Homo sapiens: one gene and its partners. The protein of the gene in region 2 purifies or fractionates together with the protein of the main gene of each other region. This does not show direct contact. Each region holds a gene or a part of one and is shown on either strand. Other genes may lie near its edges.

Region 1 (7,023 bases), on a different chromosome or scaffold from region 2:
AGAATGCCATTGTCTGATATAATTTTCTCTTTGTAATTTTGCAGCTCTATATGTTCGATAATGTTGCTGAATTAGAATTGAAGCATGTTTCCAAGTCTGAAATGTAATATATGTTCTGTACATCCTGAAAGTAGCCTGAATGAGAACTGCAGCCCTTTGCATTTCTTGTAACTTCTTCTTTACCATCAGTCTTCTGTAAGATGACTGTATTGTAATGGCTGCCTTTCTTAAGTGCAAGAATTGGTACAATTTATGTTTGGCACAAATGGTGGCTCGATATTTCCTCTGAACAAAAATAGTAGCTTTTTTGAGGGAAATGAATCTTCTCCTCACCAGTAATGATCTAAACCTACTCTGAATAAGGGTTGCAGAGGAATGCATACTCTTCAAATGTCTTCTAGTTTTCATACCCCTGAATGCAGCCTGAAGGATCACAGCAGAGTGTCTTTGTCTGAGATAATGCTGCCTCTGCAGTTTTGCAGCTCTATTTGCTTGGTATTGCTGTTGGATCACAACGGAGGCCTGTTTCAAAGCCTGATATCTCATATGTAATCTGTGCATTCTGAAAGTAGACTGGATGAAAGTAGCAGCCCTGTGCATCTCTCGCATCCTTTTCCTTATCATCCATCTTCTGTATGATGACTGGATTTTAATAACTGCATTTTGTACCTGAAGGAACTGTAAGTGATGCTTTGTACAAAGATGTGCCCGATATTTTCTCTGAATCAAAATAGCAGTTTTCTTGAGAGAGAGGAATCTTCTTCTCATCATTAGAGTTCTAAATCTCCTCTGAATGAGAGTTGCGGCTATATGCATCATTTTTAAATGTCTTCTAGCTTTCTTTCCCCTAAAAATAGCCTGAATGTATATTACAGAATGCCTCAGTTTGTTATACCTTTGAAATTGTATGTTTCTTTCTTTCATTGCCCAGTATCTTTGCTGTACTGTTTTTGTTATTTTCTTTAACTTATTAAAGTATGTTTGCTGTCTGTATCTTCTGTAGTTTGACTGAATGAGTGTTGCTGCAGTCTGCATCTTTCTAAGAGTCCGTCTAACTCTTACTCCTCTAAAACTTGCCTGAAGGACTTTAACAGCTTTCAAAATTGTCAGGTACTTTTCACGCTGCATTTTACCTTGATAATATGCTCTACATCTTACTTGAATAACAATAGCTGCTTTTCTCATTGTATGGTAACTTATTCTTGACTGATGCATTTTAAACATGGCTTTAATAAAAGTGGCTGCCCTGTGCATGTGTTGAATATGTCTTCTAACTCTAATACCTCTATAAACAGATTGGATTTTAATTGCTGTCTTCTTCAAATTAAGATACTCCTTATGCTGATGGTTTGTAATTTTAATACCTCGATACCATCTCTGAATTATAATAGCTGAAGCTCTATAGGTTGCATATTTCTTTTTGGTTTTGTAAGCTCTGTATTTAGACTGTATAGTGACTGCTGCTTTGTTGCAATCCTTTATTCTTTTTCTCACTTTCATACCACGATAAGCTGACTGTAAAGTTACTACAGCTGCTTTTGTTTTCAAATATAAATGATTCTGTTCTCTTCCAATACTGTAAGCCCTATAATACTTTTGAATCAGAAGAGCAGCTTTTTTCATGATTTTCCACTTCTTTTGTTGCACATGCATTCTATAGTATGACTGTATGATGATAGCACATTTATGTTGCCTTTGAAGCTGTCTTCTCAGTGTTTTTCCCTTCCACATAGATTGAAGCACCAGTACCGCATGACGGAGTTCAATATACTCCATACATTGCTTCCTTCCTGCAGTCCATGCTCTGAAATTTTGCTGGATGACTAATGCTGCTGTTTTAAACAATCTAAACTGTTTCTGGGCCTTGGCCATTCTAAAAGCAGACTGAATCTTCAAGGCAGCTTGATGTTCCCTTCTAATCTGTTTCCGAACCTTCCAGCCACGATAAGCAGACTGGAGGGAAATCACAGCTGCCTTTGTCTTCAAAAAATGTGTTCTTGTATCATGAAGAGTCTTGTACGCCCTGTACCATCTCTGAATCTTTATTATAGATTGAAGCACAGATTGATATTTTACCCTTTTATTATAGCCTCTAAAAGCAGACTGAATTTTAAGAGCAGCTATAGATTGTTGTTTGATTAGCTGGCGTACTTTATAACCTCTGTAAGCTGCTTGCAAGCAAGTAGCTGCTTTTTTGACTTGCAAGAAGTTCTTCCTCTGATTGACCTGTGCTTTGTATGCATGATAGTAATTCTGAATGACAATAATTGCTTTATACATTTTCAGATAATACTGCCGAGCCTTTCTCATTCTGAAATAAGACTGTAGTGAAATAACAGCTTTTCTTTGTAACCTCATCTGCTTTCGGACAAGGTATCCTCTAACAAATGCTTGCAGTTTGATACAAGATTCCCGCATCTGCATATACTCTTCTCTCTTTTGTGCAGCTATTTTTTTGGAACGGTAACATTGCTGGATAAATAGTGCAGCTGCTCTTAAATGCAAATATTGTTTACGTGTTTGTTTCATCTTAACAGTTGACTGCAATTTTATTGTAGCATTTTTTAGGCTCAAAAATTCCTTTTTAGAAACATAAGCACGATAATATGATTGAATCTTTATAACAGATGTGAGGATGTGAATATACATTTTCCTGGCTTGCATCCCTCTATATGCAGACTGCAGCACAATGACAGCAGAGCGTGTTTTCTGGTAAGATGCTAGAACTTTCATGGCAAAAATATAAGCTCGGAAATGAGTCTGAATTATAACAGCTGCTTTCTTCATCTTCTTATATTTCTGTCGTTGTTGATGTTTTCTTACATGTGCCTGAAATTTGATAATAGTCTTCTTAAGGTTTAAAAATCGAACTCTGTCTTGTCTCATTCTCCAGTATGACTGAATAACACAAGCAGCTCTAATTTGTCTACATAAATTATGAGCTTTCAGTCTCCTAAAAGCAGCTTGTAATTGAATGGCTGCAGCTCGTTTCTGCAAATAGTTGGTGCGCTCAATCTTTCCTTTCAGATATGCTTTGTAGTACTTCTGGATGGTTAGTATGGACTCTTTTCTTCTTTTATATAACTTTTGGGCTTGAAAGCACCGAAATCTTTTCTGAATGATAACAACACAAGATCTAATATAAATATATTTCCGTAATTCTTTATGCATTCTATACCATGATTGTATGATAATAGCAGAATTTTCTTCTTTAGCTTGTTTTCTTAAATGCCATTCTCTAAAAGCTCTTTGCAATATTACTGTAGCTTTTACTTGTGATTGCATTTTACGTTGCTTCCATTTTCTGAACATAGATTGGATTATAAGAGTTGATGATTTTAGCATTTCATATCTTTGTTGATCTTGTTTTCTTCTTAAATAAGCACGCCAATGCCTCTGAATTGTAACTGTAGCCCAAAGATATCGTTTATAAGATGTAACAGCAATTATCATTCTTATCCTAGATTGCAGGATGATTGAATAATATTTCAATTTCAGAAATCTTTGTCTAGTGGAATATCTTCTCCAATATCCCTGGAAAAGGTAAGAAAGGACACAAAGTAAAATAGGCATAGCTTTCTATATTTAACACTTTTCAAAATACTAATTTTTCTAACATTCTGCTTAAAAATAAACACATTGAATTAGAAAACTAATTATTTTTGTGAGATATTTGTCTCTTTTGTTTTTAGTTTAGGTTTTACATTGATATACCTGTAGCCAATTCAGAAATCCATCCAAATCTTCATTATATTTAAATACTGCATTTGTATGCCAGAATCATAAGAAACATAAGCAAGTTTATGTTATATTACAAGCAAAAGAGTCAAAATAAAACTATAGTAATATTCTTTGCTATCTATTGATTCTAAGTAATTTCCTATGAGTTTATTTCTGGGCCTTATATGGTCCCCTTACTTCAATGTTTCTAAGCTACCTTATAATGACTAGAAACTGTTTATGTGAAGGATCCTGCATTATCACATTACAGGCCTGATAATATAAATATAGGAATTTAGGAATAAATAAACCAGATCACTCTCAGAGTCATTATTTTCATTAAGAATAAAATTACTTCCTTTTCCCAAATTTAGGAACTATAAATACATGGCTTAAAAGTAGAATTCTAGAAAGACTTGAGAAATGACAAAACTTTTGTCTTTTGAAAAGCCATGGTTACAATGGCTAATCCAACTGTATGTTGGCTCAACAAAAAGAGCTACAAACTCTCAAGCTAATTCCAGTTGCTGGTATCTAAAATGGTCCCAGGCTAATGGTAGTCAAGTTCTAGATGTTTTAGCAATAAGACCATTCCTTTGTACAAACACTCCAAACATTGCTGAGATTGGGGGTGGCATGGAGAGGTTGTTCTCTACTACATCTTACTTTTTCTCGCATATAAGTAGAGTAATATAGGGACTGGGTACCTCGCTCTCCTATAGCAGTATCGAGTTTGCTTGCAGCTATCACTGGCCTAAGCATACCTATCCATGGGTGAGGAAGCTTAAGGAGAACATGCACATCCCTTTTCCTGACCCTTTTCCTGTAAGTTTTATTGTCTTCTTCCTCTACTAAATGTTACCTGAGGTTTTGTTCATACTCTTCAACCTGACAGGAAATGATTGTATACATTTTATCTTACCAAGAAGAGATGCACAAGTTGTCAAAATATTTATCCAACAACAGTCAAACTTATTTGTACAAAAGTATTTTGAAAACAATAAACTCTACATAAAGTATTAACTTGCTTTAAATTAGGGCAAAGTAAAGCAGTAATAGTACTCAGAAATTCAGATATTATTTTTCTTTTGAGCACCCACCCCCAACAGATATTTCTATGTAAAATCCTCAAACTAAGAAATTGAAGAATCAGTGTGTACAGATTGTTTTATACTTTAATAATCACTTTTTCTACATTACTATTACTACTCCATTACTGAAATGTTAATCAATGTTGATATATAACATGGAAGATATGATCATCTCCTCTCCTAACAGTTTTGCTTATTACAATAGCAATTTTTTCACCATTGTCATACAATTCTTAAAAATAAATAGCTTTTACTAAGGAACACATTACATACAATTTTCTCACTTAATTCTCACAAAAATACATTAAGTTGGCATTGTTTCTTCACTTAAAGAAAGGAACACTAATGTTACAAAACTTTTTGCAAAGTCCCACAGCAAATAAAAATAATTGATCTTAGGATCTACATTATTACACCAAAATCAAATGTTCTTTCTACTCTACCACAGATATCTGCAGCAGGTTGAGTGCATTAACAGCCCAATTCTTCATCTCTCCCAGTAACTATAACCTGTGCCATACTTTGTTTTTCCTCATACAAAAGAGTTTCTCTGCTTGAGATATGGGCGCAGTCATGGAAAGAATGCAGTAGAGCAGTGTAACTCAATCTTCAGTTTTCTGGTCAGATGATGAAACAAGGCAGCCCTGAGGAACTAGAGGGTACCAGGGAGATGGTAGAGACTGGGGAGCTCAGGGAAGCAATCTGATAATGTTGTTTATGAATTTCTAGGTTCACCACCAAGTTGTGCACAATGTGAATCTAGACCACAGTAGGCTATAGACTTTAAGAATTGAATAAGATACAGATCACAATCTAGATCCCAGACTGGCTACTGGGTGTTACATAATGAAACTGATATGATACAAATATCACTCACTGTAAAGGCTTTCAAAAAGGAACTGTCACTGAAGCTACGCTCATGGAAGGCTGATGAGAACAGGTGGCCTGAACCCAATCAAGTGAATTAGCTGCTAAAACTAAAATATCAACATTCTCCATAGGATTTAAACAAAACATAGAGTCTGATAACATAACATTAAATTTCCAGAATGCAATTAAAAATTATTTGACATACAACATAACAGAAAAATTTCAACTCTCACAAGAAAAGATAATCAATAGACACCAATGATGAGATGACAAAGATACTGGAATTGGAATTAACTGACAACGACTTTAGAGCAGATAAAGTAAAAATGCTACAACAAGTTGAAACTAATGGAAAGATAAAAAGTCTCAGTAAAGACATCAAAGATATGAGTAAGAACCAAGTGAGAATAGTAGAACCGAAAAACACACTAACCAAAATAAAAATTCACTGGTATGGCACAATAGCAGAATGGAGATGACAGCCAAGATGGCAAATATCTCAGCTTTGTGGGCCAATTCTGTTGCAACAAGTCAATTATGCTATTGTAGTACAAAAGCAGCTCCCAAATAATACATAAACAAATAGTTGTGACCATATTCTAAAAAACTCTATTTATAAAAACACATGGTAGGCCAAATTTGGCCTGCAGATATACCAACCTCTGACCATGATAGACCATATTGTGGATCATAAACTAAAGGTTATCAAATAGGAAAGAATTGAAATCACAGTATGTGCTCTGGTCATAATGGAATTGAAGAAAAAGTCACTAACAGAAAAATAATAGGAAAATCTCCAAACATTTAGAAAGTAAATAACATATTCTGAAACTTTAAATCATAGAAAAAGCCTCAAGAGAAATTAAAAACTATTTGAACTGAATGAAAAAAAAATACCATATCAAAATTTGTAGTATGTGGCTAAACCTGTATTTAGAAGAAAATTTATACCATTAATGTGTTACATTAAAAGTGGAAGGACTCAAATCAGTTACTCAAGATTATACTTAAAGAAACTATAGACAGAAAAGCAAAATTAATCAAAACAAGAAATAATAAAGACTGAGCAGAGACCAATGAAGCCAAAGGGTTGTCCACTGAAAAGATCAAGAGAGTTAAAACTCTAGCAAGACTGACAAAGAAGAAAAGAGAAGATACAAATTATCAATATCAGGAATGAAAAAGGGAATATCACTACAGACTACCCAGGCATCAAAAGGATATTAAAGATATACTTTGTATATACATATGGTAAATTCAACAACTTGGATGAAATGGACCAATTCTTCGAAAATTAGAAACTGCCAAAACTCATCAAAGATAAATAGTCCTATACAAATTT
Region 2 (7,023 bases):
TCAGAAAAGGTAAACATGCCATTTTTATATAGACTTAGTGCCCACCACCCCCTACCCCCTGCCAAATCCTGGTTATAGACTAACAGTTGCTGTTAGATGCTTATGAAAAATAACCCTGTTTCCCAGGATGAGCCTAACTTGGGCTCACACTAACTTGGGCTGGGTTCATATTGATACATTTCTTCCTTTTTCTCCCCTAATTTTTGTCTGGAGGAAAAAATGTATCTTCGTTCTCTTAATTTTGGGCTAACTTCTACTGCAGGATTTTCTGGCCTGAAGAAAGTTCTTCCATATGAGTGTAGTTGTGAACAAAGCGTAGCTCCAGGAGTTTTGTTCTGCATAGTGGGGAGCGGTGGAAACCACGAGGCTATCGCAGGTGGTGGACTTGGCAGAGAGAGGAGCATATGGGTTTGACAGCGGAAATAGATGTCACCATCTGGTACCCGGGCCCTTCAGATGATTCCATTACCTCCCTGTCCTACCCCATATCTAGGTTGAGTGCGGATGGCATTTGAGATATATTTGCTTAATTTTTTTTTTCTTTTTTAATGACATAGTCCTGGTTTTAAGCAAATGGAGATAAAAGGTGATGTGCTCTGTTAGGGATGTCTGCCAAGGCAAAGCTCACAGAAGACGGGAGAAGTTTCTGAGGATAGACTACCTCTGACATTATTGCTTGGATTGGAGCTGGGCTGTTTCCTGTTAGAAAAGGCAGAATACAAGCCCCAGGGAAGGGGCCAATCGGTGTGCCAGCTACTGGAGCGCAAGGAGGATTCATTCCTGGATGAGAGGTGACTCAGCAGAGAGATTTCCTAGAGACACCTCCTGCCTCCTCCTTGTATGACGTTCAAATCAGACTTCTAGACATACAGCTTGTTAGGTGTTTAGTGATTAACTTTTCTGTGGGACTTGAATGTAAATGCCAGACTATGGCAGTTTGGGATATGGTCAGTTAAGCCAGATATGCTTTGAATAGCTTGTTAGATTTAAACATCTAGAATTTTGATGGCTGTGAACTTTGAGGATCTTACTTGGGATTATGGAATTATAGAGACACAGGGCAAATGAGATAAATGGGGTTCTCTTTTGTAGTTTTGTTGTTGTTTAGTTCATGTGGTCAGGTTATTCAGTGGCATGTCCCATGCAGATTTCTTACATCTGCCATCAGCTATGACATCATGCCTGGATTCCAGTAACAGGATGGCATTTCATCAAATTCTGAAAGTCATCATTATTTGGACTAGAACAACCTATTCCTTAAAATGCCTAGTAAGACGAAATCTGGAAACAACCCCCCAGGTTGGAACTCCTTAACAAAATCAGGGCACCTTTGCTGCAGTTGGCTGCAGTGTCACTTACCTGGAGAAGGCGCCTTGTTCACCCCAGGATGACCTGTCTGTGGGTTAAAAAACGGTGCTGTCCCCTTTGAGTCAGAATGGTGCTGGCCATTCCCCTGTCGTCTTTTCCTGCCAAGTTGGATTCAGTGCTGCATGCTGGATTTCTGGCATGCTGGAGTTAGTGATGGGGCAAAGATATGTTTGGAATTGGATGAAACTCTGGACACCTCTTCAGCTCCACTGTTTAGACAGCAGCTGGCTGGAGTGGCCTCCCAGTCAGTATCATCCATTCTCGAGACTAGAGGCAATCCCACTTCTGCTGATGGTCACCCAGAATTCCATCTCCCCACCTCCTCTCCAGATCCATGAGAAAGAAGAGGAAGAGTTCAATGAGAAGAGTGAAAATGATTCCGGTATCAACGAGGAGCCTCTGCTCACAGCAGATCAGGTATAAGTATCTCTCCAGGTTATCGGGACCTTTTGTTCTTTTGATGGAGAAAAAGTCCAAGAGAACACACTTGCCACATCCATTTAAGGCAGAAGAAAGATATGTGGTCATGTGGTGCCTGTGCTCATGACTCAGAGTATTTTTTGTTTCTTTTTTTTCTTTATATATATATACTTTTGAGACAGAGTCTTGCTCTGTTGCCCAGGCTGGAGTGCAGTGGCGTGATCTTGGCTCATTGCAACCTCTGCCTCCCGGATTCAAGTGACTTTCCTGCCTCAGCCTCCCGAGTAGCTGGGACTACAGGCATGCACCACCATGCCTGGCTAATTCTTATAAAAAATTTTTTGGTAGAGATGTGATTTCACCATGTTGGCCAGGCTGGTCTCAAACTCCTAACCTCAAGTGATCTGCCCACCTCAACCTCCCAAAGTGCTGGGATTATAGGCATGAGCCACTGTGCCTGACCTTTTTTTTTTTTCATTTTGAGACAGGGTCTCACTTTGTCACCCAGGCCAGAGTGCAGTGGCAAAATCAGGGTTCACTATAGCCTCAACCTCCTTGGCTCAAGCGATCCTCCCGCCTCAGGCCCCTAAGTAGCTGGGACTACAGGCATGCATCACTATGCCCAGCTAATTTTCTGTACTTTTAGTGGAGATGAGGTTTCACCATGCTGCCCAGGCTGGTCTCAAACTCCTGGACTCAAGCAGTCCACCCGCCTTGGCCTCCCAAAGTGCTGGGATTACAGGCATGAGCCACGGTGACTGTCCAACTCAGAGTATTTTTGATAAGGGATTTCATCTCTCTTTCTGCCTCAGGTTGCCCACCTGCAGTGAACATGAATGTCATTCTTGACACTTGGGATAGTTGGGGTCAGTCTCTGATAGGAGCCAGAGACAGGCATAGTGTTTAGTAGCTACAATCCTGCTAAGCCTTCTTATTGAAATTCGTTGTACTCGGAGTCAAGACACTCAAACAAGGGTCCCAAATACCTGTTTTCCCAAAAAGAGAAGTGACAGATGAGGCTTTTGTGTGATGGATATTTTCTTACATTTCATAGAACACTCAAAATTTTGGGCCTTCCGAAAGGAGTCTTAGAGCCACTTCGACTTTGTGAAAAAAGATAGAGTGCTTCGCATTCAATTGAGATCATCATAGCTTTAATAATTTATTACTTAGAGAGGATAATGTTCAGTTTCTGGATTCCTTATTTAATGTTTTAGTCAACAAATATTTATGGGTGCTTATTTTGAGCTAAACACTACATAAGTTTCCACAAAGTCTTTCTGCAAAGCTCCACTGGCAGCCTTCGGTGCCAGAAAGTGCTTTTTTAGCAGCAATGGTGCTTTTTCATATCTGTGATAGAAAGGTGGGAATTGAAACACGTGAGGATTAGGAGACTGAAGAGAACCAGATTTTTAAAAATAGGGGCTAATAGCTATTCTTGTGACTTGTAGGAGGATCTACAATTCAATGATATGAACTCAATTATAACTCCTCTTAGAGAAAAGGACATTCAGCCATAAGACCCTGACAGGGACTTGTGTCATTTGGTTGCATTCTGTAAAATGGCTTTCAGTAGTCAAAGACTGGGTATTTCCTAAGTTTGTGAGTAGAGGTGAAAAGGTTTGGGAATAAGAATGGAAATTATTCTAAAGGAGGAGACCCTGAAACCCCTTACCTTTGGTCCAGCCCACTGTGAAGAAACCACCTCAAAGAGTACAATGCTGGCCTCGGGGACTTTAGTCCATCCATGGAGAACAGACAAAGGTGAAGGTTGGGACAAAACTCATCTAAAGACCTGCTTTCAGCAGCAGTCTTCTTTATTTGTAAATAATTAATGTACAAAGTAAGTCACTCTTTTTTTTGTTGTTGTTGTTGAAACAGGATCTGGCTCTATTGCCCAGGCTGGAGTCCAGTGGCCCAGTCTCGGTTCACTGCAACCTCTACCTCTTGGGCTCAAGCCATCCTCCCACCTCAACCTCCCAAGTAACATGGACTACAGACACACGTCACCACAACTGGCTAATTTTTCTGCTTTTTGCAGAGATGGGGTTTCGCCATGTTGCTCAGGCTGGTCTTGAACTCCTGAGCTCAAGTGATCCACCTGCCTCGGCTTCCCAAAGTGCTGGGATTACAGGCATGAGACACCATGCCCAGCTAGTAATTCACTTTTGTTCCTTTTGGCAGATATCTAATTTTCCCTCCACTTCTGGGAGCTGGCTCCTGTCAATAGTCTAGATTAGAGCTGGGGTTCTTATCTATTTGCTGCTCTCTAGACTCCACCTATCCTTCTATTATTTCATTATCTCTATTTTCATTTGTTGCTGGGCAGCTTCAGTTCCTGTCTAGGTGAATTCTGGAGAAATAGTTGTTTTCCTCCCCATTTTGTGTTGTTCTAGGAGCACGCTATTTTTTACAGTCACGTGTATTATGTCAATTAATGGACTGGGTTTTGTGTTAAAGTTGGGTGAATGAAATATTTTCCCACTTAGAAATAGCTCAGCACATTGAAGTAAATGTTCCCTTCCAGGCAGCTCTGCCTTGCTTCCTGAAAGAGCAGCTTATTTCCAATAAGTCATTTATCTAAAAGGAGCTCTTGGAAGAGGTTTTACATTAAAGAGTGCCTTACATTAAAGAAAGAGTGTATGCAAGCCTTTGGTTGGAACTATTTTTATTATTCAGTATTTATGTAAAAACAATATTGCTTTAGAAATTTTCAGATAGCTAATTAGGAACATCCTTAACTGATCAAAATTCAAGCCAGAATGCCCCTCTAGCAGAGAACAGAGTTAGCACTCTCTCGTGTACCTTCTTCAGGTAATTGAGGAGATTGAGGAAATGATGCAGAACTCCCCAGACCCTGAGGAAGAAGAGGAGGTTCTGGAAGAAGAGGATGGAGGAGAAACTTCCTCCCAGGCAGACTCGGTCCTCCTGCAGGAGATGCAGGCATTGACACAGACCTTCAACAACAACTGGTCCTATGAAGGTGAGGGCCCTGGGCGCTGGGCTGGCCGAGGAGGAAGCACCTGCTCGGGGCCAGGCTCTGGGCTGTGTGCTTTGTACATGGCTAATAGAACCCTGACTGCCTCAGAGCAGAGCCTTGCAGATCTAGGTGGTCAGCAATACCTTTCTTACTCGGCATCAGGAGAGAAGTTTGCATTTTTGAGAAAAGAACAAGGTAGTCGAGCAAAATTTAAATGTTAAAACTAACCAAAGAACAAGACTAAGGCAGAATAAGCAGAAGAAATCTGAACTACTATATAAAAGCAATGAATGATGCTACCATAAAATCAATGAATAAAAAAGGTAATAGTAACAGCTCATATTTCTGAAGTGCTTTCTATGTGCCAGACCTTATTCTAAGACTTTCTTTCTTTTTTTTTTGAGACAGAGTCTCTCTCTGTCTGTCACCCAGGCTGGAGTGTAGCGGCATGGTCTTAGCTCACTGCAACCTCCACCTCCCAGGTTGAAGTGATTCTCAAGCCTCAGCCTCCTGAGTAGTTGGGACTACAGGCACGTGCCACCACGCCCTGCTAATTTGTGTATTTTTGTAGAGACGAGGTTTCGCCATGTTGGCAAGGCTGGTCTCAAACTCCTGGCCTCAAGTGATCTGCCTGCCTCAGCCTCCCAAAGTGCTGGGATTACAAGTGTGAGCCACTGCGCCTGGCCTTATTCTAAGACTTCCTATGCCTAATCTCATTTCATCTTCACACCAACCCCATTTGGATCAAGCTAACCGAGTCTTTCAGAGGTTACATGACTTGTCCAAGGCCACTGTTAGGGAAATATGATTAGAAATGAGATTTCCTTCCTGTTCAGAAAACCTCTCCACAAAGACAGGTGAGAAAGAAAACTATTTTGTTACTATTTTTATTTATTTATTTATTTTTTAGAGATAGAATCTCGCTCTGTCGCCCAGGCTAGAGTGCAGTGGCATGATCTTGGCTCACTGCAGCCTCTGCCTCCCAGCTTCACGCGATTCTCCTGCCTCAGCCCCCTGAGTAGCCGGGATTACAGGCATGCATCACCATGCCCAGCTACTTTTTGTGTTTTTAGTAGAGATGGGGTTTCTCCACGTTGGCCAGGCTGTTCTCAAACTCCTGACCTCAGGTTATCCGCCTGCCTCGGTCTCCCAAAGTGCTGGGATTACAGGTGTGAGCCACCATGCCCGGCCTAGAAAACTATTTTATTATTGAATAAGCACTAAACCAGGATGGGAGCCACATCACAGACAACTCTCTGAAGAGACTGCAAAGACAGAAAGCAGTCTCACTCTTGTGTAGCTAAGTGGATGAATGGAACCCATTACATTGAGTAGGTTTTGCAATTTGGAGTCGGAAGGGAGTTAGGCCCCTCTGCTCAGAACAATGAGAGATGATTATGTTTCTTTTTCTTTTCTTTCTTTCCTTCTTTTTTTTGAGACAGAGTCTTGCTCTGTTGCCCAGGCTGGAGTGCAGTGGCATGATCTCTGCTCACTGCAACCTCCGCCTCCCAGGTTCAAGCAGTTCTCCTGCCTCATCCTCCCGAGTAGCTGGGATTACAGGCATGCACCACTACGCCTGGCTAATTTTTATATTCTTAGTAGAGATGAGGTTTCACATGTTGGCCAAGGTGGTCTCGAACTCTTGACCTCGTGATCCGACTGCCTCGGCCTCCCAAAGTGCTGGGATTACAGGCATGACCCACTGCGCCCGGCCCGATGATTATATTTCAAAGCAGTAACCTCCAGGCCCTTGAAGAAAGCCTCCTGAATTATAAGAATGACAAGAGGCTTATTTTAGCCATGACAATAATTTAATGTAAATGTAACATATGTTTATTTTAAAGATTTAATCTAAATCTTTGAGAGATTGAAAAGGATAGGTAGAAGAAATTCTGAAAGAAAAGGGAGGTGGGGGAGAGGAAAAGTCTCTTCCCTTATTTTCAACGGGGAGAATCAAGCCTCTCATTTAAAATTTGTATTTGTGCTTAGTCCATGCAGAAGCCATAAGGGGTGAAGCTAACATTTGAAGCCAGGTAGGTTAACTCCAGAGGCCATCCTCTTAACTCTCTGACACAGGTTTATAGTAATTATGACTGTGCACAAGAAACGGCTGGATGAAGCATGAAATGAAAAAGTGTAACACAGCAAAGGCAGAACAATTCACCAGCCGTAGGGTATCAAATGCCCACGCTGCAGAAGGGGCCCCATCCTAGGAGTTGATCCACCCATGGGGAGATGGGAACTTAGAAACAGGG
Region 3 (7,425 bases), on a different chromosome or scaffold from region 2:
TGGAAACGCCACTGCTGATTCCCATCAGTCATGGTGTTTACAGCTCCAGGCAGGATCATCACTGGAGCTGACTTGCTAATTTCTGAAAAGCCAGTATTTCTTTTCTGGAGGATGTTCATATGCCAATCTCAGGATTTCCTGTGCATGAAGAAATGAGGACACAGTGTGGAAGCGTGCTTGCCTGAAGCTTTGTTTTGTTTTTTCATCCTGGCTCCAACCCCAGGCGGCCCTCCTCTCGTCGGGAGAGGAACACTGGCCGAGTCACAGCCAGTCGTGCTGACTGGATACAGGTGCGTAGGGAGGGCTCCAGGTGGGGACTGTCCCATGTGTAGGAGAGGAATCCAGGGACAGGGAGAGGCCGAGTGGGCAGCAGAGGGACAGGCCAGTCGGACGCAAAGCAGGAAGTGGAGCTTCCTCTTCCCATTGTCATCTGGATCCTCCCGCTCCGTGTGGGGATCCTCACAGTCACACCTCTTTGAGCCAGCTGGTGGCCAGCCTGCGCACAGGAGGGACCTCCTGGGGTCCCCAAGGGAAGCCACACACACAAGGCCCCAACTCAGCTGCTCTCCCAGACTCTCTCCCCACTTTCTTGGCGGGTGCAAAGGGATGGAAAAAAATCTGAATAACTAATCCTAAGTAGTACAAGTTATGCCATTTCCCCCAGAGAAACCTCTTTCCTCTAAACTCTGAAGGCACTTAGAGCCCATACCAGTTAGTGCTAAATTATTTTCCCTTTTGGCCCGTTTACTATTGGTTCTTCACTAATTTGGTCTCTCCAACTCAAGTCCAACTTCCTAGAGGGCAGAGGATGGCATGATTTTAGTACCATATCTCCCCACCACCCCTATATCTAGTACAGCTTAAATACATGAAGTATATAATTTAATTAAAACAGGCTGAAAATACATATATCATGACATCCTATCCCAAATATATAATGTTCGTCAATATGAGCAGGTATAATAGAGAACCTTGGCGTGGATAGGCTTGTTTTGAAAAGCAGCAAAACCTCAAGCAGAAGCTGCTACTAGCACATGTGGGCTGAGGAAGTCTCCCGGCTGCAGCCTGGCCTCTATGGCCAACCCTCTAGGAGCCATTTGCACTGGGTGGGATCAGGGTACATTGCTCAGAACATTGTGGGTGATGGCCCTGGGACCGAACGTGTCTCAGGAGAAATCCAATTCCTGATTCTACAGGTAAGTGCCTCCAGATGCCTGCATCACAGTTACCCAGGGCCTACCCACCTCAAGGCAGAGTCGGGTATCCAGATGACTAGAGGCAGCAAAGGACACGATTCTGGAGTTAGGGTTGGGGAATGGCCCCATTTTCCTTCTTTGGTAGAAGTCAACACTCCAGGACACCTGAATGGCACCAGAGGCTGCCACAAGGGCCATAGCAGTGACAGCTGAGACTAGTCCCTGGCAGAAGCCAAGAACTCTGCAGGATCAGAGAGGTGCCAGAGAACCTGACCATGGAAATGTTTTTGTCCTGCTTGTAGTAATAAACCGTCTTCCACCCTTGATACCAAAAGGAATAAGCAGCAATCTTGGGCTCAATGGCTCACACCTGTAATCCCAGTATTTCTGGGGCAGAGGTGAGCGGATCGCTTGAGCCCAGGAGTTGGAGGCCCGCCTGGGCAACATGGTGAAATCCCTTCTGTACCAAAAAAAACCACAAAAATTAGCTGTGCCTGTAGTCCCAGCTACTCAGGAGGCTGAGGTGGGAGAATGGCTTGAGCCCAGGAGGCGGAAGTTGCAGTGAGCTGTAATCACACTGCACTCCATCCTGGGCAACAGAGCAAGACCGTCTTAAGAAAAAAAAAAAAGCGGCAATCTTCTCCAAGGATCAAGGGAGGGTGCCATCAGTTAGTACTTTCTAAAGCTGTGTCACCATCTCTTTTTAGCCCACTTCCCCTCCCCGCTCCCCATCCCTCAGTCAAGTCCCTAGGATCTGAGTTTGCTTTTGGAGCTTGAACTGGCCTTGAGCTCAGAGACATCTCTCTGCGGACCCTGCTTCTCTATTCTACATCTGTCCCAATAGTTGGAGCAGGGGCTGGAACAGCTTAAGGTGAGCAGCAGCCACCTGTTCCCAAAAAACCCTTAGCTTGGATTATCAGCAGACAGTGGAACATCAGTTTCGTACACATTTTGTATTTCTCACCCCATCTGCAAACCTTTCCTTTGAAGAGTATTCCAAGAATGGAACCCAGAGCTCCCCAGAAGCACACTGTTGCTTGGGTTTGGACTAGAATTTAATGTTCCCTCCAACTCTAGAGAATCCATGATGTGTATCTTTACACCAGATGCCACTAGGAGTCTTCCTGTCCCTTATCATTTTAGTTAAGAAGTGACTCATTGCTGTCATCCTTGCTTCACAGAGGGAGGAACCCAGGCTTCAGATTCTGCCCTTTTGGAACGGAAGAAGGAGGGAGAGCGGGGAAAGACCTATGTGTGCAGCACTATGGAGACAGTTCACTATGTCGGGTACAACACATTCCCTTAGTCTCATTTGAAAGCCATGATGAACAGAGAGGTGTGGAAAATCTAAGATCACAAATATGCCATGAGAAAGTATCTTTGTCTCTACTGCTACTTTACAAAACCACGTCTCTAACTGCTAACACTTCAAATTCCCTCAAAATAAGCTTCTTTTCCCAATTGTCCCTCACCACCAACTATAGTCATGCTCTGAAATTATTATGGAAATTTAGCATCTGAAAGGAACAGGAAGTTATAATTAATTCCTAATTAGAATTGGGCACAAGCTTTTTTTTCTTATTTTTTTTTTAATTTTTTTATTGTGACAGAGTCTCGCTCTGTCGCCCAGGCTGGAGTGCAGTGGCGCGATCTCCACTCACTGAAAGCTCCACCGTCTCCCGGGTTCATGCCATTCTCCTGCCTCAGCCTCCCGAGCAGCTGGGACTACAGGCGCCCACCACCATGCCCGGCTAATTGTTTTGTATTTTTAGTAGAGATGGGGTTTCACCGTGTTAGCCAGGATGGTCTCGATCTCCTGACTTCGTGATCCGCCCGCCTCGGCCTCCCAAAGCGTTGGGATTACAGGCGTGAGCCACCGCGCCCGGCCGGGCACAAGCTTATTGTTTTTCTTCTACCTTTTCTAAATGTACCCAATGCTCTTCATGTTTTCTGCCAGATGTTCTAGTCACTGCATGATGGGATTGTTACTTTTGCTGCTTCTCTGGACTCCTCACTCTTAGTCATTTTAAATATGGTCAAAATGACAATCTTTCTTACCATATTTGATATATAACTTTCAAAAAGAATAAAACTTAGCACCCTCCTATTAGTCCTTATCTAAATGGAAACTTATTAGCAGAGCATCAAGGGCCCAATAAAGTGCCCCCTCTTTTGAAACTTATCTCTACTCCCTTTCATATATTTCAATCATGTCAATTTCTTATTGTTCTTCTAAATAGGTGCTGATTACTAAACTCTATTCGTGGGTTTTATTTTTTATGTTCCTCTCCATTAATTAATATTCTTCACTGACTTTAAGACTTCACGATTCATTCTTTTAAAAGAACGTGTTTGATTTCCTCCACTGTTAACTGCTAAATATCTCTCTGATATATTGTTTTCAGGCTATCTTTCTCATCTGGAGTAATTATGTTTCAAGTGTCAGGGGGAAAATACCTTTTCTATCCTGTGCAAAAACTCATGCTGGGCACTAAGAGCATGGAGCATGTCCCAGTTATCTATTGCTGCATAACAAACCAACCCAAACTTAGCAGTATAAAACAACCACTGCTTTAGTATGCACATCAACTTTCAGGGTCAGAAATTCTTTTCTCCTTCATGTATAGAGTCTCAGCTGGGAGTGACATAAATAGGTGGAGACAGACCTCTCCAGCCCAGTCCAGCCAACAGCCTCCGCTCCTGCGCACCCGCAGCCTGGGGCCCCAGGTTCCTGTGGTCTCACCGACCCTAATCCTCTCATCTCTCCTCCCCATTCCCTCTCCAAATTGTTTCAGAATTCCAAATTCTTATCTGGATCCGGCAAATTAATTCAGCTACTCTTCAGAGTCTCTCAGTTATTCCCAAATTCTCTCGGAAGCTTGAATTTACCTATCTAAATCCATTCTCAAAAACACATTGGCCTTTTCTAGCCGGGACATCTCCAACAGTAGTTGCTGTTAGAAACTGCAATTTCCCCTTCTCTGCATACACATTTTTATAAATTGATTTATTGGTAGGCAAATTACATTTTTAAAAAAAGGCATGTGTGGGTTTTCAGGGAAGCCTGGACAGGACGTGGGCGTGCCGGGAGCTCGCCGGAGCAGCTGGTCCGGCTCTGGGCGCCCAGCGGAACCAGGGCTGTACTCACCTGGATGCCGGACCCGCCCCCTAGAGACCCCGCCCCCTGGCGTTCGGCTACTAAAGGGAAGGGGATTCCCAGGGGGTCCTCAATCCTGGACTCTCCCGACCCCTAGCTGTCGGTCCCCCTCCCTGCGCGCGCGCCGGCGGGTTTCCTACCCTCCGAGGCGTCCGCTGGCCTGCGCCCTGGCGGGGACGTGGGCGGGGCGGGCGGCATTTAAGGCTGGTGCCACCTCCCCGGTGCAGCGGCTGGCGATCGGCCGCGGAGGTGCGTGCAGGGCCCGCGCCGCCGCCGGTATCTCCACCGCCAACACCTCAGCCACTGCCACTGCCACAGCCACACGAGGCCCCCCACCGTGCGCTCCGCCGCTGCGGTCCCGGATCCGCGCTCCACGCCCGCAGCCCGCGGCGCCACCAGCCCAGCATGCACCAGGTGCGTGCAGCCCCCGCGCCGGCCGAGGATGCGAGACGCTGGGCCAAGGCCCCGGGGACCGGAGCAGGCTGACGGGAAGCGAGGAAAAGGCGAAGAGGAGAAACGCCCCGTCCCGGGGCAAGGGGAGGCCGCCTTTCCTCTGAGCGCCCCCCGGCCTGGGCACCGCTTCTCTGACTCCCCGCCACGGCTCCGTGCGGCCGCCGGGGCTGGCTGGGGAAAGAAGCCAGTCCAGAGGAGCGAGAAGGGGCCAAGGGGTCCTAGGCCAGCTCCATGGCACCTGCGGGCTCCGACTCGGAGGATGGGGTGACATGGATTCGTTGCGGTCTGAAAAGACTTCCGGTTAGGGCCCCCTGATCAGGACTGAGGGTCGTAAGCTTAGTGGGTGCCTCCTCCCCAAGAAACAGGACGCACAGCTGTTGTGTCCCCTGGGAAGGACACCTCAGAGGAAACCTCGAGGTGCCTAAGGAACCTCGAGGTTCTAAGGAAACCTCACAGCTCCTTGGAGGCATCAGTCAGGAGTTGGGGGGGTAACTTCCCACCTGCTCCACCCAGAGAAGGGTCACCCTGAGGAGCTGCTGGCTGGCCTGTGCCCACCCCGCCTCCCCTCTACACGGACGGAGAGGAAGCCAAGGTCGGCGGGAGGTGGGGGAGAGACTCCACTGTCCGACTCCCTCCGGCCTCCCCAGAGGAGGGAAGGAAAGGGAGAAGGGGCTCCTGACTCCTGCAGGTCCTGACCCCGCAGAGGGGCGCTCAGCACCTCTTCGGAAACCCCATTTGGGGCCAATATTGCACCTGGGCTTCTCTTTCAGAAAACCCCAGAAATTTACTCCGTGGAGCTCAGCGGAACTAAGGACATCGTGAAAACAGACAAGGGGGATGGCAAGGAGAAGTATAGGGGTCTGAAGAACAACTGCCTGGAACTCAAAAAGAAAAATCACAAAGAGGAGTTTCAGAAAGAACTCCATCTGGTCAGTAGCCTTAAGCCACGGGGTCCTGCCGGCTATGGCCCTTCCCCGCAAGAGCTTGCCCCTAGAACCCACCTCTTACCACAGACATTCAGTCTGAGGGATTTGAAATCCCCTTGAGATTGTGTGTGGTGTGTGGTGTCTGCGTGGTGTGTCTGTGTGGTGTGTGTGTGTGGTGTATGTGTGGTGTGTGTGTATGTGTGGTGTGTCTGTGTAGTGTGTGGTGTGTGTGTGTATGTGTGGTGTGTGGTGTATGGTGTGTGGTGTGTGTGTATGGTGTGTGGTGTGTGTATATGGTGTGTGTAGTGTGTGGTGTGTGTATGTGTGTGGTGTGTGTGTATGGTGTGTGTGTATGGTGTGTGTATGTGTGGTGTGTGTGATGTGTGTGTGATGTGTGTGTGGTGTGTGTGTGTGGTGTGTATATGTGTGTGGTGTGTGTGTGGTGTGTGTATGTGTGTGGTGTGTGTATGTGTGTGGTATATATGTGTGTGGTGTGTGTGGTGTGTGTATGTGCATGGTATGTGTGGTGTGTGTGTAGCGTGTGGTGTGTGTGTAGTGTGTGGTGTGTATGTGTGGTGTGTGTATGTGCATGGTATGTGTGGTGTGTGTGTAGCGTGTGGTGTGTGTGTAGTGTGTGGTGTATATGTGTGGTGTGTGGTGTGTGTGTGGTGTGTGGTGTGTGTATGTGTGTGTGTGTGTTTTGAATGGTGTGATAGTATCCACCCAGAGGTCAGGGCCTCTGCAGGATTCCTGCATTCTGGTTGGAGGCAGTCCCTGTAGAACTCAGAAGGAAGAGCCTCTGATTCCAGGCCCCACAGGCATGGCCAGACCTCTCTCCCCGCAGCTGCTTCAGTGAGAGTTAAGTAACCACTTGCCAGTTTTCAATTGATTAGTAAAACTATTTGAGCTGGAACTTCTGAGGAGGAAAACCAAAGCCCCTAGGCCATGCTAGATTGCAGGTGTGAAACCTCATGGAAAAGCAGTTTCAGTGGTAAAAATGTGGAGCTTGGATTGGGAGGACCTCGGGCCCCATCAGAGTCCCACTTCTCCACTGAGCTGAAACTGGCAACAAATGACTGACCCTCACTGAAGGTCCATTTCCTTTATGTAAAATGGGAAATAAATAATTTGCTGGGGTCTATGAGGGGAAAAAATGAGATGAGGATTTTGTAATTCACGTGCTTTAGGGGAGTACAATATTATTATTATTAAGGAAGAGCTCTGGAGTTATTAAAACTAGCCTTTTTTTTTTTTTTGAGACAGAGTTTCGCTCTTGTTGCCCAGGCTGGAGTGCAATGGCGCTATCTAGGCTCACTGCAACCTCCACCTCCTGGGTTCAAGCGATTCTCTTGCCTCGGCCTCCCGAGTCACTGGGATTACAGGCGCCCGCCATCACACCCAGCTAATTTTTGTTGTTTTTAGTAGAGACGGGGTTTCCCCATGTTGGCCAGGCTGCTCTCGAACTCCTGACCTCAGATGATCCACCCGCCTCAGCTTCCCAAAGTGCTGGGATTACAGGCGTGAGCCACTGTGTCCAGCCCAAACTGGCCACTTTAATAATAAAACTGCCTTGGGTCTGAAATGTGACAGATTTTATCTTGGGAACACCGAAGGGGAAACTTCTACACGGAGCTTGAGATGGGCTGGATTGTCCCCACCGTCCTTGGCAGATCTTAAAGCTCTGTGACTCCTG
Region 4 (7,676 bases), on a different chromosome or scaffold from region 2:
ACCCACCCTAGACCTACTCAACCATAATCATCATTTTAACAGGATCCCTAGGAGATGTGTCTGCACATTAAAATTTGAGGAGCACTGCCCTAAGACATTCTCTTTTGTTTTTCTCTTCATTAAGACAGCTCTGACTTGCACTAGACTAATATTTTAAAAGCCTGACATACATACAGTTCTGGTCCTGGGCCAGCTTGTCCTCAGATCCATTCTTTGTCCTTCTGCTCCAGTCCAAGTTGTGGAGGAGGTGACCCCAGCAAGGCCAGGGTTCCCAGGCAGGAGGGGAACAGTACATCCGCAGCAGCAGCTGTGCCCTTGCAAGGCTCCAGCCACTGCCAGATGGACCCCTTGTGACCCCAGTTTTTGGTGGGTGACAGCTGTCCCTGGAGTCTGAAATGCCATCTCCTTCCTTCACCCTCCAACTTAGGGGTGGCAGCAGTTTCCTGCTTGTTGCCTCATCTCCGGCTTGCCTCATTGCAGCCTGCATTCTCAGTTCTCACATCACCTGTGTGACCACTCCCCTAGATTACATTCCTTCTGTTCCAAATACTTAAGGTGAGTTCTGTTTTTCTTTTTAGACTCAGACTGCTACCCCATACCATTTTTGATGTTTCTATTATGTACCATAGATACCAGAGGAATTTTGTGAATGGCTTATCTGCTGGAAAAAAAAAAAATGGAGCTATTACATACAGTCAACCTCGCATTCCCACATTCTGACAATCTCTTAACAACTCAGAAGAAAAATCAGCCTTAAGCTATCTGTACAGCAGATGTGACTGTATTCAGAAACTCTAAGTCCTCGGGGTGTATTTTTAACAGTCTACCCATCACTCCTCCTCAACCAGAACAGCTGGTATAGCAGCTATTGTTTTAGGAGAAAAAAGAAGGAAAGCAAAAACACCTCCTAACCAACAAAATTCTAAACACTGGAATCTCCCAGGAATCAAATCTCTCTCAACACAATCTTGATCTTAATCAACCTTGTAAATCACATGATCTACCCCACACTGGTCAGTACCTTGCCTGGGCAACAGGAGAAAGCAACTCCTATCAGTATCATTTAGGGCTATGTGGAGATCTTCCCAAAAGCACATCTGATCCATCACCCCCATACTTTGAACAATCCTCTGTGGCCACCTCTTGCCCAAGGCCAAAAAGCAAACCCCTCAAAGGACCACCCCTTCGAAATTCAGCCCTAACCAACCCTTCCAACTAATAAGTCTAATCAACGTGATCCACCTCTGGCCCAACTTCTGATCATTTCGCAGTTGTGCCTAAAGCTCTAGACGCAAGGTTCAAATATGTAGAAGGCCATTTCTTACCCACTTAGCCTGGTGAATTCTTTATCCCTCAAGATCTCACCTTAAAGGAAACCACTCCTGCCTCCCCAGGGCAGGTCTCTGCCCCGAGTTTCCGCGGCACTTACAATGTTGTCATGTCAGGTGCACAGGCGTCCATCTCCCAACTAGACTGAGAATCCCTAGGTGTAGAAACTGCCTTCCATCTTACGGTCCTGACCATGGTTCCAACACACATCCACATTTACGACCTGTGACACCCTGGGCAAGTCATTTAACCTTGATTCTATTTCTATTCCAATTCCAAAAGACGGAGATGATAGCATCCAACTTATTGGGTTCTCACCAGTACTAATAAACTAACCATGTCAAGTGCTGTAAAGCTAACCCAAGAAAGTGCCTGGCACATAGAAGGCTTATTAAAGAATTGTTATTTGCTATTGCTATCATTATCATCACTACTGCTACTGTTATACCCGGAACAAAGCAGGTGTTCGGTACCTATTTGCTGAATAACTGGAGCACTTCACAACAAACCTGTTTGTAACATGTTAGGACCTCAGGTTCCCCCATCGCAGGTATCAAAGGCTGACAGAAGAGAAGGCTCCCACGGTGAAGGGAACGGCTGAACCTAATCCGCCCCGGAGGAAAAGCGCACTGCAGCAGGAGGAGAAAGTCCGTGCCAACCGGATCTGCCAGAGCTGCCCCAGGGACCCAGCCTGCTCGCAGCCACCTGTCCAGCCACCTGCCTGAGGAAGCAGTGTTCTAACCGGGCGGGCTCACCTGGAGCAAAAACCGTAAGCTGTTTTCAATAGGAAGCACAATGGGAAAACAAACGGTGCAACTTTCCTCCTGCAAAAAGGACGTGCGTCTTTATCTAACATTTAGCGTCAGGAGTTCTCCGTGGAGAGTTGGGTGCCAAGCGGGTGCGCGGTCCCGGCTTTGCTGAGAGAGACGGTCACTGAACGCGCATCCCTTCCTTCCCTTTTGGGATGAAGGGGTGAAGGGGTGATCCCTCGCACCCGGGTCCGAGCGGACTTCTGAGGGCACCACAGGGAAGTCTGCAGGGCACTCGCGGGACACCACCCGACCGCTCCTGAGAAACGTGCAGAACCGGGGTTTGGGGACCGCGGACGCCCGCGGGGCGCAGCCGGGAGCCCCCGCGTGGGACCCGCTCGGTGGCACGAGCGCAGTCCCCTGCATCTAGGCCTCAGTTTCCTCCGGGTCCTCGCGGCCCAACTCGGCGCGCGCCCCCCGCCCAGCGCGCGGCGCCCGGGGCGCCCACCTGCGCGCCCCCCGCCCGGCCCCACAGCCGCCCGCCGTCCGTCGGGGGCCGCGCGCTCCGCCCGGGGCGCCGGCCCGTTACAGCGGCGGGGCACGCTCGACAGGGGCGGTGACGCCCGCGGGACCCCGGGCCGGGCCGAGCCGGGCCTGGGCGGCCGCTCGGGCAGGGCCACGGGCCTCGGCCGGGGCTGCCGCGGCGTGAGGGGCGCGCGCCCGGGCCGCCGCGCCGCGGGCTCACCTTCTGTCGGATCTGACCCGACGTGGACACCTTGCGGATGAGCTTCTGTGGGGAGCCGGGCTCCGCCTCGGGCTCGCTGTCGGACGACTCCTCGGGCGGCGGCGGCGGAGGCGGTTGCGGGGGACCCGGCGGAGGGGCGCCCGCCGCCGCCGCCATGCTGCCGGGCCAGCGCGCGCACCGCGGGCGGGGGCGGGGCGGGGCCGGCGGGAGGGGCGGGGCCGAGGGCGGGCCGGGCCGGGGGCGGTGGGGGCGGCCTCCCGCCTCTCCCCGCCGCGCCCCCTGCCGGCCATGCGCGCAGCTGCAGACGGCGCCGCGCGGCCCCTCCCCGCCCCCACCTGAAGCGTCCCGGGCCCCCCGCCCACCTCTCCGGGCCGTGGCTTCTGTGTGTTATTTCTGGAACGCCGTTTGTGTTCTTGTTTCTATATTCACTTCTTAAAACATCTCTACTCTTCCGCATCAGAATGTAGGTAACCTCAGGCAGGCTGGGGCTGTGTCTGTCCTGCCCAGCCTTGTGTGGCCGAGTTTGGGGCGAGCTCGAATGCGCGCGCGCGTGCTGGAAAGAGACCCCGGTACTGGGACGGGCCTCGGGACGCCAGAGCTGGGATGCACCGCTCCATCTGGGAAGGCTTCCTGGAGAAAACGGTTCTTAAGGAGAGATGGAAAATGTGAGCAGGAGTTGTGACTAGAGAGGGAACCATGTTCTAGGCAGAGACCAGATTTGTGCAAAGGCCTGGAGGCAAGAAAGAACGAGTGTTGGGCGAAGACGGGGGAAGAAAGGGAAGCTGGTGCTTAGAGCAAGGAAAATGGCATTAAGATATGAGCCTCGGGGCGGGCAGGTCGAAGCGGGCTTTGGAAACCAGATAAGGGGATGGAAGGCAGCAGGAAGCCCTTGAGGGATTTAACCCTGGGCGGGGCTGGGTCACCACGCTGGGGCCTGTGATCCGGGCTTTGAAGTTATCAGGGCAGGTGGACGCCCTGGATTACCGAGGGGCTGAGAGATAGAGACGTGGACTGAGATCCAGGTGGGGAGTGACCAGCGACTGGAGGGAGACAGAGGTGACCAGAACGAGTCCCATGTTTCCCAGGGGGGCTGCTGGATGGTGGGCGGGTGGGGTCCAGCGCTGCTCTGGGCAGAAGAGGAGGAAGCGAAGCTGGAGATGAGATCAGCTAAGTTTTTGGTGCCATCCAGGTGGAGCAGGGCTTGGTGCCACCCAGAGGAAATGCTGTCCATCTGTCTGCCCTGCTCTGAGGGGCAAATCAGTAAGGGACTGCCCAGGTGTGCCCTCTCCCTGTCAAAGGGCTGCCGCTAGAGACCTCGCCTGCCAATAGGCATTCGCTGGCCGCGCCGCCCTGGGCAGTGACCTGGGGCTGCAGAGTGGCATCTGGCATGGGGACACGGCCAGGGGCATGGGCTCACGGCCAGGACAGAGGAGGACAAGGCCTAAGGCAGGAACAGTCCGGGACAGGCCGAAGGCCCCATGGTGCCCCAGGGTACTATAGCCACTAGCCACATGTGGCTACTTAAATTTCAATTAGTTAGAATTCAGCATTCCGTTCCTCAGCCACAGGAGCCACATTTCAGGGACTCAGTAGCCGCATGTGGCTTAGCAGCTGCCACGCTGGATAGCACAAATATAAAACACTTCCCCCGTCCCCCCAGAAAGTTCTGCAGCACAGTCGCATGCTGAACTGTGTCCTCCCGTAATTCATATGTTGAAGTCCTAACCCCCAGTACCTCAGCATGTGACTGCATTTGGAGTTAAGGTTTTTAAAAAGGTAATGAAGTTAAAATGAGGTCACAGGGGTGATCCCTAATCCGGTATGACTGGCGTCCTCATAAAAAGAGGAGATGAGGACACAGACACACACAGAGGGCAGCCCATGTGAAGACACAGGGAGAAGATGGCATCTACAAGCCAAGGAGAAAGGCCTCCGATGGAACTCCCCCTGCCGACACCGTGATCTCGCACTTCCAGCCACCAGAACCGAGAGCGTCAATTCCTGTGGTGGAAGCCGCCCGGCCTATGGTGCAGTGCTCTGGCAGCCCTAGGGAACTCATGCAGGCACAAAGGGCTCCAGCCTCCCCACAGGGTTGGGACTTTTCTATCAATTAACTACATGTGGAGTGATACACAGAGGCAAAACCCTGGAGGAGTGTGCAAGGCGGAGGAGGGGCGGGGACGCACAGGGGAAGAAACAGTTCATTCCTTCATTCCGCGGGGGAGCCGGGTGACCTGAGCAGGGTTTGGGATTGGAATGGAGAGGTCAGATATGAAGGGAGTTTCCCAGGAAAACGCAAAAACGGGGAGACTACCCCTACCAGGTGAGCAGAGCGGGTGACGAGGGATTTTGGTGAAGCCGGTAGCAAGGCGGGTGCGGGAGGCAGGGAGGTGAGCAGCGGCGCCAGGATGCAGAGTAGCCTCCCGGCCCTGCTCTGAGGCAAGGACTTCAGTCCCGTGGGCACTGGAGCTGGCAAGGGGGTTTGGGAAAGCAGAGGAACTCATGTGTCTGGGCAGAGAATGATCCATAGGAGAGAAGACTAGAAATAGGGAGGCCATTAAAATGCTGTTGCCGGCCGGGCGCGGTGGCTCACGCCTGTAATCCCAGCACTTTGGGAGGCTGAGGCAGGCGGATCACGAGGTCAGGAGATCGAGACCATCCTGGCTAACACGGTGAAACCACGTCTCTACTAAAAATACAAAAAATTAGCCTGGCGTGGTGGCGGGCGCTTGTAGTTCCAGCTACTCGGGAGGCTGAGGCAGGAGAATCACTTGAACCCCGGAGACAGAGGTTGCAGTGAGCCGAGATTGTGTCACTGCACTCCAGCCTGGGCAACAGAGCGAGACTCCGTCTCAAAAATAATAATAATAATAATAATAATAATAAATGCTGTTGCCTACACCTGTTAGGAGCTCAGGGGACATCCAGGCCCCAGAACTCATCATTTTAGAGTCAAGGAGGCAAGGGCATGAACGTGACGGTTAAGAAGCAGAAACCGTGGCTGGAGAGGAGGAAATCTGCAATTACCAGAAAGTACTGAGATTGTCACAGACAAGAGGAGCCAAGGAGACATGATGACTAAACGTCACGTGGGTTCCTAGATGGGATCCCAGAACAGAAAAAGGACATTAGGTAAAAGCTGAGGACATCAGAATTAAGTATGGGGCTTTAGTTTAATAATAATGCATCAATATTGATTCCCGGGTAGGAGGAGGGTGAGGATTGAAGAACTACCTATCGGGGATTATTGTGCTGATTACTTGGGTGACAAAAGTATCTATCTGTACACCAAACCGCCATGACATGCAATTTACCCATGTAAAAAACCTGCACATGTACCCCCTGGACCTAAAATAAAAGTTGGAAAGAAATAAGTATATTTTACTGGAAACAACATTTGAGTCACTCAGTGTGGCAAATGTACCCTACTCATGTAAGGGTTAATAATAGGGGGTTTTGGGTGTGGGGGACCTCAGTATAACATCTTTGCAACTTTTCTGTAGATCTAAAACTACTCAAAATAAAAAGTGTATTTTAAAAAAAGAGGATTAGGCTTGGTAAGAATTATATTCTTAAAGCAAAGAAAACTGGCATAAATGTTCTTTGATGATGAAGCAGCTTTTTTGTTCTCCTGGTGAGCGCACAGCGCTGTTCCCCTGGAGATCTCAGGAAGGGCTGAGACATCAACTCCCCCAAAGCGGTGGCCTGGAAGAGCACATTCCCTCCGGTGCCTCTTTATTGAATGAGTCACACTATGAATCATCTCTAACGACAGCCTGCTCCCTGAGTCTACCCCACCTTGAGGGCATATCAAGATGGCAGTAATAACACACTTCACGTCCAACCTAATTCTTCTTTGTGACACGTCAGTGAAGAGGCGCAACTCCTGTCAGAAAGAACCACTTCACATTGGAGAATATAAAAGGGAAACTTGAAAACATGGGAATCATCCAATTTTTACCCTGAACTAGGGTCATGATTGTCATTTGGAGCAGCACATTTCTCCACTGCATGTGACATAGAGCTTCTGGTCCCCAAGCATGTGAAAACCAAAAACCACCATACACATTTCCAAATGTCCCCAACTCCCACCCCGCACCTGCCCTACTCCTCAAAGATCAGTAAATGCGACTCAGTCCTGTGAAATGAAACTGGAAGGAAGAAAGGTTTTTTAAATGTTAAAGGAGTAGGAAAACAGACACCCTAAAAAGGAATTAACCACACATGTGACAAAATTGCAGAGAACTGAATACACACACTAGTACAAATCCAGTTGTGGAGATCTCAGTCAGATGAGCAGACTGGACCCACGTCGATACCCCGCTGGGATATTGTACTGTAGCTTTACATGATGTTGCCACTGGAGGAAGTTGGGTAAAGCGTTCCTGGGGTCTCTCCGTATTACCCCTTACAACTGCATGTGAATGTGCAAGTCTCTCAATGAAAATTTCTTTTTTTTTTTCTTTTTGAGATGGAGTCTCGCTCTGTTGCCCAGGCTGGAATGCAATGGCACAGTCTGGGCTCACTACAACCTCCACCTCTTGGGTTCCAGCGATTCTCCTGCCTCAGCCTCCTGAGTAGCTGCGATTACAGGCACCTGTCACTATGCCCAGCTAATTTTTTGTATTTTTAGTAGAAACGGGGTTTCTCCATGTTGGCCAGGCTGGTCTTGAACTCCTGACCTCATGATCCGCCCGCCTCGGCCTCCCAAAGTCCTGGGATTACAGGCATGAGCCACCTCGCCCAGCCTGAAAATTTCAATGGAAAAAAAAAATAGCAAGGGCCAAGGGCAGTTGTTGTTGAATCCTAAATGCTAATCTCCCTCCCCCCACTCCACCAAACTCTCCTACTTC

The links.
Region 1: the proteins of FEZ1 (region 2) and ASPM purify together in Homo sapiens (co-immunoprecipitation; 3 studies listed by BioGRID and IntAct, with this or other methods). This does not show direct contact.
Region 3: the proteins of FEZ1 (region 2) and ATP12A purify together in Homo sapiens (affinity purification with mass spectrometry; 2 studies listed by BioGRID and IntAct, with this or other methods). This does not show direct contact.
Region 4: the proteins of FEZ1 (region 2) and DGKD purify together in Homo sapiens (co-immunoprecipitation; 3 studies listed by BioGRID and IntAct, with this or other methods). This does not show direct contact.

Annotation. Positions count from the first base shown.
Region 1 is NC_000001.11:197,101,652-197,108,674, forward strand, and holds part of ASPM (abnormal spindle-like microcephaly-associated protein), read right to left. Parts: intron 3,535-7,023; coding exon 1-3,534. UniProt on the Homo sapiens protein: Involved in mitotic spindle regulation and coordination of mitotic processes.
Region 2 is NC_000011.10:125,458,246-125,465,268, reverse strand, and holds part of FEZ1 (fasciculation and elongation protein zeta-1), read left to right. Parts: intron 1-1,698; coding exon 1,699-1,785; intron 1,786-4,602; coding exon 4,603-4,771; intron 4,772-7,023. UniProt on the Homo sapiens protein: May be involved in axonal outgrowth as component of the network of molecules that regulate cellular morphology and axon guidance machinery.
Region 3 is NC_000013.11:24,675,986-24,683,410, forward strand, and holds the start of ATP12A (potassium-transporting ATPase alpha chain 2), read left to right. Parts: upstream 1-4,422; 5' UTR 4,423-4,758; coding exon 4,759-4,767; intron 4,768-5,576; coding exon 5,577-5,735; intron 5,736-7,425. UniProt on the Homo sapiens protein: The catalytic subunit of a H(+)/K(+) ATPase and/or Na(+)/K(+) ATPase pump which transports K(+) ions in exchange for Na(+) and/or H(+) ions across the apical membrane of epithelial cells.
Region 4 is NC_000002.12:233,349,822-233,357,497, reverse strand, and holds the start of DGKD (diacylglycerol kinase delta), read right to left. Parts: upstream 3,005-7,676; 5' UTR 2,980-3,004; coding exon 2,824-2,979; intron 2,369-2,823; exon of another isoform or gene 1,875-2,368; coding exon of another isoform or gene 1,839-1,874; intron 398-1,838; exon of another isoform or gene 211-397; coding exon of another isoform or gene 175-210; intron 1-174.